2 separate regions of the Homo sapiens genome follow, and region 1 is linked to region 2. Evidence: fine-mapped expression QTL. A gene starts in region 2. The other region holds a variant in brackets. All regions are shown on one strand. Distances are from middle to middle. Region 1 overlaps STAT5B (signal transducer and activator of transcription 5B). Region 2 holds the start of NAGLU (N-acetyl-alpha-glucosaminidase).

The links. PIP is the estimated chance that this variant, and not a neighbour inherited with it, causes the effect.
Region 1: its variant is fine-mapped to the expression of NAGLU in fibroblasts (GTEx, PIP 0.98).

The regions. Positions count from the first base shown.
Region 1 is chr17:42,217,135-42,222,500 of GRCh38, reverse strand. It overlaps STAT5B (signal transducer and activator of transcription 5B), which reads left to right. Exons shown (of 19, transcript NM_012448.4): 6 at 2,659-2,789; 7 at 3,038-3,189; 8 at 3,623-3,778; 9 at 4,171-4,350; 10 at 5,037-5,124; 11 at 5,219-5,341. Among named protein-coding and RNA genes, the nearest start is that of GHDC, 25 kb to the right of the region's middle. The variant T/C (reference allele first, on the strand shown) is at 1,986.
Region 2 is chr17:42,532,850-42,538,167 of GRCh38, reverse strand. NAGLU (N-acetyl-alpha-glucosaminidase) reads right to left here and starts at 1,927. Exons shown (of 6, transcript NM_000263.4): 1 at 1,513-1,927; 2 at 623-770. The coding sequence starts at 1,895. It also overlaps the pseudogene PTP4A2P1. RefSeq lists silencers at 1,425-1,494, 1,615-2,024 and enhancers at 884-1,621, 2,135-2,214.

The DNA of each region.
Region 1 (5,366 bases), 320 kb after region 2:
ATTTCTAATGTTCTATGCAGTTATTCACAGAGGTCTTCCTGAAACAGAGTACACTTAACGCCCCTTAGGTAGCCCTTATGGACAGAGCTTCCCTAGCCTGGTATAAATCCTGCTTAGTAGTTGGGGCACAGAGAGCTTCAGTCTGTGGTGAGGCTGTGGAGCCCCACCAGCGCCCCCTTTTGACCCTGTAGCAGTTTGGCAGTTTGAGCTTTAATAGTTTCCTCTCTGCTTCCATGCCCAGCTCAGTCTCAGAGAAGCCTTGGCTCAACCACCCAGCCCCTCCAAACACACACACACACAGCACACACAGACAACACAGCACACACACACACCACACACATCACACACACAGCACACACACACACAGCACACACACCCCCCACAGCACACAGAGACACACAGTGCACACACACAGCACACACACACCACACACAGCACACACACAGACACACAGCACACACACACCACACCACACACACCACACCACACACAGCACACACACACCACACCACACACAGCACACACACACCACACATAGCACACACACACACCACACATACACACCACACACACATAGACACACAGCACACACACACACACACAGCACATGCTCCTCTAATTCCATGTATGTAGGTTCCATTTTATGTCTATAGTGATACTACTTATTTACTCTTTATCTTCTCCACTGGAATATAAATCTTTGAGAAGGGACTATATCTTTTATCTCTGTACCCTGAGGCCAGCACAATGCCTGAAACATAACAGTTATTGAGTAAAGGTTGACAGGATGATTCTAGCCTGTCTTCCTTTTTTATCTGAATCCATCCTAGACTGGCCCTAGAAGAAGGGCAGCTCCTTCAGAGAATGGAAACGGAAGATTTGGGATGGCTATTCCTACCCAAGTCCTTAGACTGTCAACAGTATTTCTGATCCCGTGCCTGGCTTTTCTGTTTCCTGTGCATGGTGGCGGATTAGGTTTGGATTCAGGTTGGGTTTGGATCTATCACGCAGTGTCTTCTCAGTCCCATTTGTCAAGTTCACTCAGCAGAAACACAGACTATTGATCTGCTTTTGCCAGGGAAGGCTCAGCTGCCTCCAGTGGAGTAGGGAAATTGCTTCCCGTCTCCCTGGCCTCCTTCCCAAAAGCTTCTGCAAATTTCCAGGAGAGCCCTAAGTGGGTCCCTTGCATAGGAAGGCTGGGCCCAGGTGTTGGGATCACCACCACCCTCCCTGTGGCTGGGCAGGATTCCTGAGGTAGCCGTGCAGATACCTTGGATCTGTCCGTCCCTGGATGATCCTCTTCCTGCTCGATACCTGCAGTGAGATTGGAGCCATATTTCTGAGTTCTAGCTCTGGGCTGTTCCTGGCTACATAGAGTTGCTTTTGTCTGTCCCAGCTTGTGCATCCCATGGGTCAGGGCTGGGGTCAGAGTGACGTGGCCCTCAGGGGCCAGCCAGGAGCTCGACCAAGACATGCTGGTGCGCGCATCTTCTGACTCAGCTCAAGCAAGGACTCTGGGCTGTTGAGAAGGTGATGGGAAGGGATTAATAGTCCCAGTGTGGTGGAGACGGGCTGTCGCTGGGAGGGTGGGGTGGGCCTGCGGTGGTGGTTGTAACTGTGGACATGTTTACTTTCTTAGCCTGGGTTATTGATACACAGGTGCTCCTGTGTTCCACGTTCCCTGTGTCTTACCTATTTCATAATAATTTTTAAAAGGTAATGAGGCCTAACTTACTCCCTGTCCCGCCATCAATGAGACTCCTCACAGATGGTGTGGAGGGAAGCCGCCTCCCTTCGGCCTCCCTTTCCTGAGAGAATCTTGGTGGCTCTGCATCCCCAGTGGCCCTGGACATGCTCTCCCTCTGCGGTCTGTCTGTCTGTCCGTGTTCCCTGGTTGGTTGGCTGGGTTCACAGTGAGCTCACCTGGACAAACATGCTGGGCCCCTTCCAGCCTCTCAAGAATCTCATCCTCCCCTGAGGAGGGA[T/C]TGCTGTGCTCAGGGACTAGACAGAGCCGCCGGGGCTGGGTTTCCCTGAAGAGGCCTTGCTGCGGGAGGGATGGGGCCGAGCAGCTGCTTGTCTCTGTCACCTCTTCTCTCTGTCCTGTTCCCCGTTAACCAAGAAGCACGAACCTCACACAGAGCTCACCCATGTCAGGCAGCTTTCTGGCATCTTCCATGTCCTCATGTATTTAATCTTAATGCACCCCACTGAGGCAGGTGCCGAGAATCTCCCGTTTTACACGTGGGGAAGCCAAGGCACAGGAAAGGAAAGCGATTTGCCCAGGTTCACCTGCAGTCAAGGGCATGGGCACACTTACACCCCAGACAGCCTGGACCCATGCTGGGCCGCGAGAAGAGGGCTGGCAGCCCTGTGAGGCAGGCGGGCAGGAGGCAGGCAGGCCTCCTCCCCAGCTGCCCCAGCACCCGTGTGCCCCCAGAGGGGACGGCTCAGAGTCAGGAGGCTGGCGAGCAGGGCCCAGAGGCGCCTCCTGGGGCACCCATTCATCTTGGCCCCCCTGGCTGTCAGGAACCCCGACTTGCCCTTAATGCAGTATCTGAGCCCAGGAGGGTCTCGCTCCAGAACGGGTGAGTGGGCTTCTCTGGGCCTCCTGTTGGACACTGGGAGGTGATGGTCATGGTTTCCTCTCCCCTCCTCTAGCTCAGTTTGGCCCGCTGGCCCAGCTGAGCCCCCAGGAGCGTCTGAGCCGGGAGACGGCCCTCCAGCAGAAGCAGGTGTCTCTGGAGGCCTGGTTGCAGCGTGAGGCACAGACACTGCAGCAGTACCGCGTGGTGAGTGGGGTCCTGGGCCTCTCCTGGGCGTGGGTGCCATGAAGTCAGTCTCTGGGGACCCGAGGGAGGGCTGGGACCAGCATGAGAGCAGAACCTGGGAGGGCAGGAGGCCTTTTTTCCTGGGGGCCTTGCGAGGCAGAGCAGCTTGGGGAGAGGGAACGGCCTGGGCCCTGCCCTGCCATTTCCCAGCGAGGCCCTGCGGTGTTCTCTGGGAGCCCAGAAGGGGCTGCTCTCCTCCCTTCCCTCAGGAGCTGGCCGAGAAGCACCAGAAGACCCTGCAGCTGCTGCGGAAGCAGCAGACCATCATCCTGGATGACGAGCTGATCCAGTGGAAGCGGCGGCAGCAGCTGGCCGGGAACGGCGGGCCCCCCGAGGGCAGCCTGGACGTGCTACAGTCCTGGTAATGGTGTGGGGCGGCCAGCGGGCAGGGCAGGAGGGGCTGGTGGGGATCCCGGCTGCTTCTGCGTCCTGTGCTGGCTCCTGCAGCAGGCCCCCTCCATCCTGGGACAGCTCTTGTTTCTCCAGGGAGCCTGGTTCCTCAATCAGACTTTGGCCCCCATCCTGTGCACCTCCCCCAGGAAGGGGGCTGCTGTCCTGGAGATGGGACAGGGTTCGGGTGTGTGGGGTGATGCTTGGGCTGTTTGGGCCTAGTCAGGGTCGCCCCTCCTGTGTACGTCTCTAATTCTGGGAGGCAGGGAGCTCTGCTCTTCCCATGGGTGGGAAGTGTGGCGAAAGCACAGAGCCTTCCTGGGGGAACGGGAGCTGTGTCTTGGGGCCTGGCGTCTGTGCGGAGGAGCCATTGTCCTCCTGTTGGCCTTGGGGCTCTCGTGCAGGTGTGAGAAGTTGGCCGAGATCATCTGGCAGAACCGGCAGCAGATCCGCAGGGCTGAGCACCTCTGCCAGCAGCTGCCCATCCCCGGCCCAGTGGAGGAGATGCTGGCCGAGGTCAACGCCACCATCACGGACATTATCTCAGCCCTGGTGACCAGGTGACTGCTGCCTGTTTGCCATGCCCAGGAGCTTGGGGCAGCTCCTGCCTGCGTGGGGGGAGCCGCAGGTGCCTTCCAGACCAGCAGATCCACTTCCTGCCTCTCATCCCTCCCAACTCCATCTCCAGTTGCTGTGGCCCTTGCCCAGTTTCTCCTGTGGACACTGCAAGAGATGCCCTTGGGCTGCAGCCCATGCCAGCTTCTGTGTTATCTCACTCCCCTCTCCATCCTCTCCCTGGACTCTCACGGCTTCCCCAGGAACAGAGGCTGTGCCCGAGCTCTTCACCTCCTGAGCCCCTCGGGAGGCAGCCCCACCCCCACCACAGAGGGACTGAGAGCCCTTTCCCCTGCACCAGCCCCTCATCATGCATCTGTCCCTGTGTCCCCTGCAGCACGTTCATCATTGAGAAGCAGCCTCCTCAGGTCCTGAAGACCCAGACCAAGTTTGCAGCCACTGTGCGCCTGCTGGTGGGCGGGAAGCTGAACGTGCACATGAACCCCCCCCAGGTGAAGGCCACCATCATCAGTGAGCAGCAGGCCAAGTCTCTGCTCAAGAACGAGAACACCCGCAAGTAATTGTGCAGCTTCCTCTCATTCCCTGCTACTTGTCTCATGTCCTGGCAACAGGAAAAAAAGAATTCTGCCTCCTGTGTCAGATCCCTGTTTGCCCTTCTGGCCTCTTCTGGGCATCAGCAAAGGAATATAAGGAAGTTCTTGGGCCTGGTGTGGTGGCTCACACCTGTAATCCAAGCACTTTAAGAGGCCGAGGTGGGCAGATCACCTGAGGTCAGGAGTTCAAGACCAGCCTGGCCAACATGGTGAAACCCTGTCTCTACTAAAAATACAAAAAATTAGCCGGGCGTGGTGGCAGGCACCTGTAATCCCAGCCACTAGAGAGCCTGAGGCAGGAGAATCCCTTGAACCTGGGAGGCAGAGATTGCAGTGAGCTGAGATTGCAGTGAGCTGAGATCACGCCACTGCACTCCAGCCTGGGCAACAAGAGCAAAACTCCGTCACAAAAAAAAAAAAAAAAGTTCTCTTAGGAACTGTTTTCTGTGAAGATAGTTTGATCTTGTTTCATTTTGTAGAGATACGTCCGAGAAGATTACATGTATGTGTTATGTAGCTAACATTTCCTCTAAATGACGTACATTTTTAGCAAACTTCTCTATTTCCTGCTACCCCAAATTATATTATTTACTCCGCATGTCCTGAGACCCTGGCATGGGTTTGGAGCTGGTCTCTCTCTGATTTGCAGTGATTACAGTGGCGAGATCTTGAACAACTGCTGCGTCATGGAGTACCACCAAGCCACAGGCACCCTTAGTGCCCACTTCAGGAATATGGTGAGGGTGGAAGAAGAGGAAGAATGAATTTTTCCCTGGTCTTTGAGGGGAACAACTTATATCTTACGTTTCATCTTATGTTTCTTCTTTGTAGTCCCTGAAACGAATTAAGAGGTCAGACCGTCGTGGGGCAGAGTCGGTGACAGAAGAAAAATTTACAATCCTGTTTGAATCCCAGTTCAGTGTTGGTGGAAATGAGCTGGTTTTTCAAGTCAAGGTAAAGCCTTCCCTCAGCTCTGCGT
Region 2 (5,318 bases):
GGTGAGTTCACTGTGTTGCCTTTGTCGCATGGGTGAGGAGATGGGGCACAAAGGGGCTTTCCCCCAACAGGAAGGCCTTAGAAGGCTTCATGGAGCAAGAGTGCCAGATGGAAGGGCAGGGCAACTGTGTGAAGAGCTTAAGCAGAGCCTGGAGCAGCCATTGCAGCACAGAAGCTTCCAGGGAGGCAGATCTAGAGCTGCCCATGAGTTGGATCCAAGGGACCAGGTGATTGGCTGCATAGGGGAGATGGGGGAAGGAGCCCCACTCCTCAAACTGGAAGCCTCAGTTTTTTTTTTTTTTTTTTTTAGACAGAGTCTCGCTCTGTTGCCCAGGTTGCTATTTCTTTGTATTTTAGTAGAGACGGGGTTTCACAATGTTGGCCAGGATGGTCTCGATCTCCTGAACTCCTGATCCGCCCGCCTAGGCCTCCCGAAGTGCTGGGATGACAGGCGTGAGCCACCGCGCCCGGCCGGAAGCCTCAGTTTTTAGGAGGCCCAAGCCACTGTGCACGCTGAAAGCACTTCTAGAGAGAGACACTGCGCCCATGCTGGGGGGCGGGTGAAAACACCTACGGTGGCTCCCGCCATAGAGGAGGGTGGGGAAGGGACAGTGGGCACGCACCCGCTGCCAGATGGCCTCCTGGCCGCTCCAGGCCAGTGCCAGGTTGATGCCATTCAGCGCCATCCAGTCTATCTCTCGCTCCCAGCGGGCCCAGTCCCACCACACGAAAGAGTAGCTTTGCGTGCACACATTCTGGTAATAGCGGTACCTGCGGGCAGTGTCATGAGCAGGGGCGCATCCCACCCTGGAGGGTCCACGGCCCTGGAACAAATCCCCCATCCCCCACCTAGAGGAGAGGGGAGGGGCTCCAAACTCGGCCCTTCTGCTGCACACTGGGACCCACCCCAGGTGGAGCTGAGACCAGGTACCGGGGCTGGGCTTCTGAGGCACTCGTCCCCTGCACTCTCCCAGGGCCCTCTAGCCTGGCGGGTATTTGGGTGGCATATTCCACTTTCATGCCACACTGCCAGAGCCCCTCCTCTGCACGGTGTTTTCCTGGAACGGGGAATCCCTGCCCCCACAGTCTAACAGATGGGCAGGGGAGGACAGCTGTGTGAACACATCACTCCATAGTGTGGCAGGCGCTGGAACACAGGCCTGTAGGGTGGGGGATGGAGGCGTCCTTCCTCAGTCCGCAGGTTCAAAGAGAAGGTGGGGGAGGAAGGCAAGAAAATTCACTCATCACCAATTGTGCACCACAAATTCTATGCCCATCATCGTGCAAATCCTCACAATAACACTGCACGGTAGGCGTCTTCTTTCCGTTTTTCAGGTGGGCCAGCCGAGGCTCTGAAAGGCAGAGTGGCTGGCTCAAGGCCACACAGCTGCTGGAGGCGGCGCAGCTGGGCCTTCCGGCCAGCGCTCCCCGCTCAGCCTCCCGATTTGGGTGGCAGCGGCTCCGGGAGGGGGTAAGCGCCTCGGGCGGACGCGGGGAAGCTTCGGGGCGGTACCTGTTGGGCGTGGCCTCGGTCAGCTCCCCCGGCACGGCTGGCAGTGGCCGCGGCAGGCGCAGCTGAGAGCCGGACCAGGCCACGTGGCAGCCACAGAAGTCGCGCAGGTAGCGGTGCAGCCCCGCGGCGGCCGCCACGCCCGTGGAGCCGCGCACCCGCACGCGCGCCGCGCCGCCGCCGCCCAGGCTGTAGGTGTCCAAGCCCGGCTTGGCAGCCAGAGCGCGCTCCACCGACACGGAGAAGTCGGCCGCGGGGCCTGGCCCCAGCAGCCGGGCCACGAGCGCCCGCACGGCCGCCGCCTCCCGGGCCTCGTCGCCTGCCGCGCCCCCGGCCCCGGCCAGGAGAAGGACCCCCACCGCCGCGGCCACCGCCACCGCCTCCATGGTCTCAGTCCTGCGGGTCCCGCGACGGCCAGGGGGTGGGGCGGCCCGCGTCCAATCAGCTGCCGGCCTCCGGCCACGTGGACCCGAAGGCTAAGCCCGGGCTCAGGGCCAGGAGTCGCGGCTTCCGGGTACCAGGATACTCCCTTGGGGGCGTCTCGTGACCGCACGCGGTGGGGAGCGTGTGACCCCGGCTCCAGGGCCGAAGGGGACCCGCTGGCCCTCACAGAGCGCCTTCGGGTAAAACGCGCTTTCACACGCAAATAACTTCCATCCAACCATCTAATAAATACACATTTGGAGTTTATTTTGTATCAGGCACTGCCATAGCTACTTCCCTACTGATGAACGAGAAGACGGTCCCTACCGTCCCCGTCAGGGAGGTGACCTAGAAACCAGATATTTAACGTAAGTAAGGATTTCCATCATAGTTGTGATGCTGCGAAGTAGTGCAGTAAGTAGCGAAGTAGCGAAGTAAGGTTTCCAAAGGAAGTGACTTTTAATCTGAAACTCAGGGATGAATAGGAATTGGCTAGAAGAGGGAAAGGAAGAGCCTTCCAGACAGAAGAAATGCATTTATTGAAGGCCCTGAGAAGGCAGAGAGCTTGCAGATTTGAGTAACTAACAGGCTAGGAGGTTCGAGGAGGGATGGGGCCATGTGAGCCCAGGCCGGCGGTGGAGCAGGGCTGGCGGGCACGTTAAAGGCTGTCCATTGGCGGCAGCAGCAGCAACATAACAGGAGCTGTCATTTTGTCAGAAGTTTCCAACCAGAGCGACTCCATCTTGAACAGGGGCTGGGTAAAATGAGGCAGAGACCTGCTGGGCTGAATTCCCAGGAGGTTAGGCCTTCGTCACAGGATGAGACAGGAGGTCAGCACAAGATAAAAGGTCACAAGACCCCGCTGATAAAACAGAATGCAGCAAAGAAACTGGTCAAAACCTGCCAAAACCAAGACAGGAAGGTGACCTCTGATCGTCCTCACTGCTCATTATACGCTAATTATAATGCATTAGTATGCTAAAGACACTCCTAGCAGCGCCAGGCAGTTTACAAATGCCATGGCAACGTCCAGAAGTTACCCTATATGGTCTAAACAGTGGAGGAACCTTCAGTTGGGGGGGATCCCCACCCCTTTTCTGAAAAATTCATTACTAACCCACCCCTTGTTTATCATATAATCAAGAAATAACCATAAAAATAGCCAACCTTAGGCCAGGAGCGGTGGCTTACGCCTGTAATCCCAGCACTCTGGGAGGCTGAGGCTTGCAGATCACCTCAAGTCAGGGGTTTGAGACCAGCCTGGCCAACATACAGTGAAACCCCGTCTGTACTAAAAATACAAAAGTTAGCCAGGTGCTGGGCGCGGTGGCTCACGCCTGTAATCCCAGCACTTTGGGAGGCCAAGACGGGCGGATACGAGGTCAGGAGATCAAGACCCTCCTGGCTAACACGGTGAAACTCCATCTCTACTAAAAATACAAAAAATTAGCCGGGCGTGTTGGCGAGCGCCTGTACTCCCAGCTACTCGGGAGGCTAAGGCAGGAGAATGGCGTGAACCGGAGAGGCGGAGGTTGCAGTGAGCCAAGATCACACCACTGCACTCCAGCCTGGGGGACAGAGCAAGACTCCCTCTCAAAAAAAAAAAAAAGAAAAAAAGTTAGCCAGGCTTGGTGGCACACGCCTGTAGTCCCAGCTACTTGGGAAGCTGAGGCAGGAGAATCGCTTGAACGCTGGAGGTGGAAGTTGCAGTGAGCCAAGATCGTGCCATTTGCATTCCAGCCTGGATGACAGAGCGAGACTCCATATCAAAAAAACAAACAAACAAACAAAAAAAGTTGAAAGAGGCCTGGAATCAGATATCAACTTTAGATACTAGGGAAGTATGATTTTTTTTTTTAATCTCAGCTCACGGGAACCTCAGCCACCCAGGTTCAAGCCATTCTCCTGTCTCAGTCTCCTGAGTAGCTGGGATTACAGGCACGTGCCACCAAGCCCAGTTAACCTTTGTAGGGATGGGATTTCACCATGTTGTCCAGGCTGGTCTCGAACTCTTTTTTTTTCTTAAACATTTTATTCATTTTATAGAGAGATTTCTTGTTTGCTTTTGTTCTGATCATTAGGAGAGTGGTTGAGGAGTATTGAATCCATCACTACTTTGATGACACAGGTAAGAGTCCAGATTCACATTTCCAGGTACCAGGAGTTCCCTCTAAATGCCACAATCAAGTCAGCCTTCATTTACATTTCTTTCTGCTGAACACAGCAATGCCCATTGGTATCTCTGAAGCGTAATCGCATCTTAAGTAAAGCAGCTGTTTGGAATTTAACACTCCCCTTCTTTTTTGTCTTATAAACTGAACTGCATCTACGTACTTCATTCCACATTCAATCAAAGCAAGTGCAACCAGCACAGGTGCCCTTCCCAATTCCACAACGCAATGCACTGCAACACAGCAACCTGGCTCTTCACGAAATTTGGTGTTTAACAGGTTTAACCAATCATCTACTATCTGATTAGGGGATGGAGCTCCATCATCAAATGGCCAATCTAGAACGTGGATTCCTTCTTTTTCAACTGGAGCTTTATCATATGTAGCATCACAAACTCAAACCGAAGTCGTCACTCCATACTTCTTAAGTTCCTCTGTGAACTTGTTGAGAGTAGCATTGGTAGGGTTGTGAGTTATCAGAAAACACATGTTCTCATAGGAGATCTCCACAGGGGCTAGACGGTTCATTACGGCAAATAAAAAGTGTGAGCGTGCCTGTGAGTGTGATGGGGAAAGTGAAAAAAAAAATCAATAAATCTTGAAATGTTTAACAACAGAAAACATTAAAAAGACCATGAAAATGCCTATTATCAATCAGTGTTTTCTCTATTCAACTTGTTTATTCCTTATGAAGCTTCTCTCTTCAAGATAAGCAAAGTATTTAGAATCCACTTGAATCCAAATTCAATTTGGGCCTCAATTTCTGCAGATGGATACCTTCGGACTCCAAAAAACCCAACTACATACAAAACTGAAGCAGCCTTTACTACATTTAGGCACTAGTGAGACAAGTTAAAAGTGTAGGTCACTTTCCACTTGTTTACTTGATGCTTAATTTTACTGGAGTCATTCAAAGAAATATGCTTGCAATTAAAAAAAAAAAGCTGGCCGGACGCGGTGGCTCACGCCTGTAATCCCAGCACTTTGGGAGGCCGAGGCGGGCGGATCACGAGGTCAGGAAATCGAGACCATCCTGGCTAACACGGTGAAACCCCGTCTCTACTAAAAACACAAAAAATTAGCCGGGCGCAGTGACGGGCGTCTGTAGTCCCAGCTGCTCAGGAGGCTGAAGCAGGAGAATGGCCTGAACCCGGGAGGCAGAGCTTGCAGTGAGCCGAGATTGCGCCATTGCACTCTAGCCTGGGCGACAGAGGG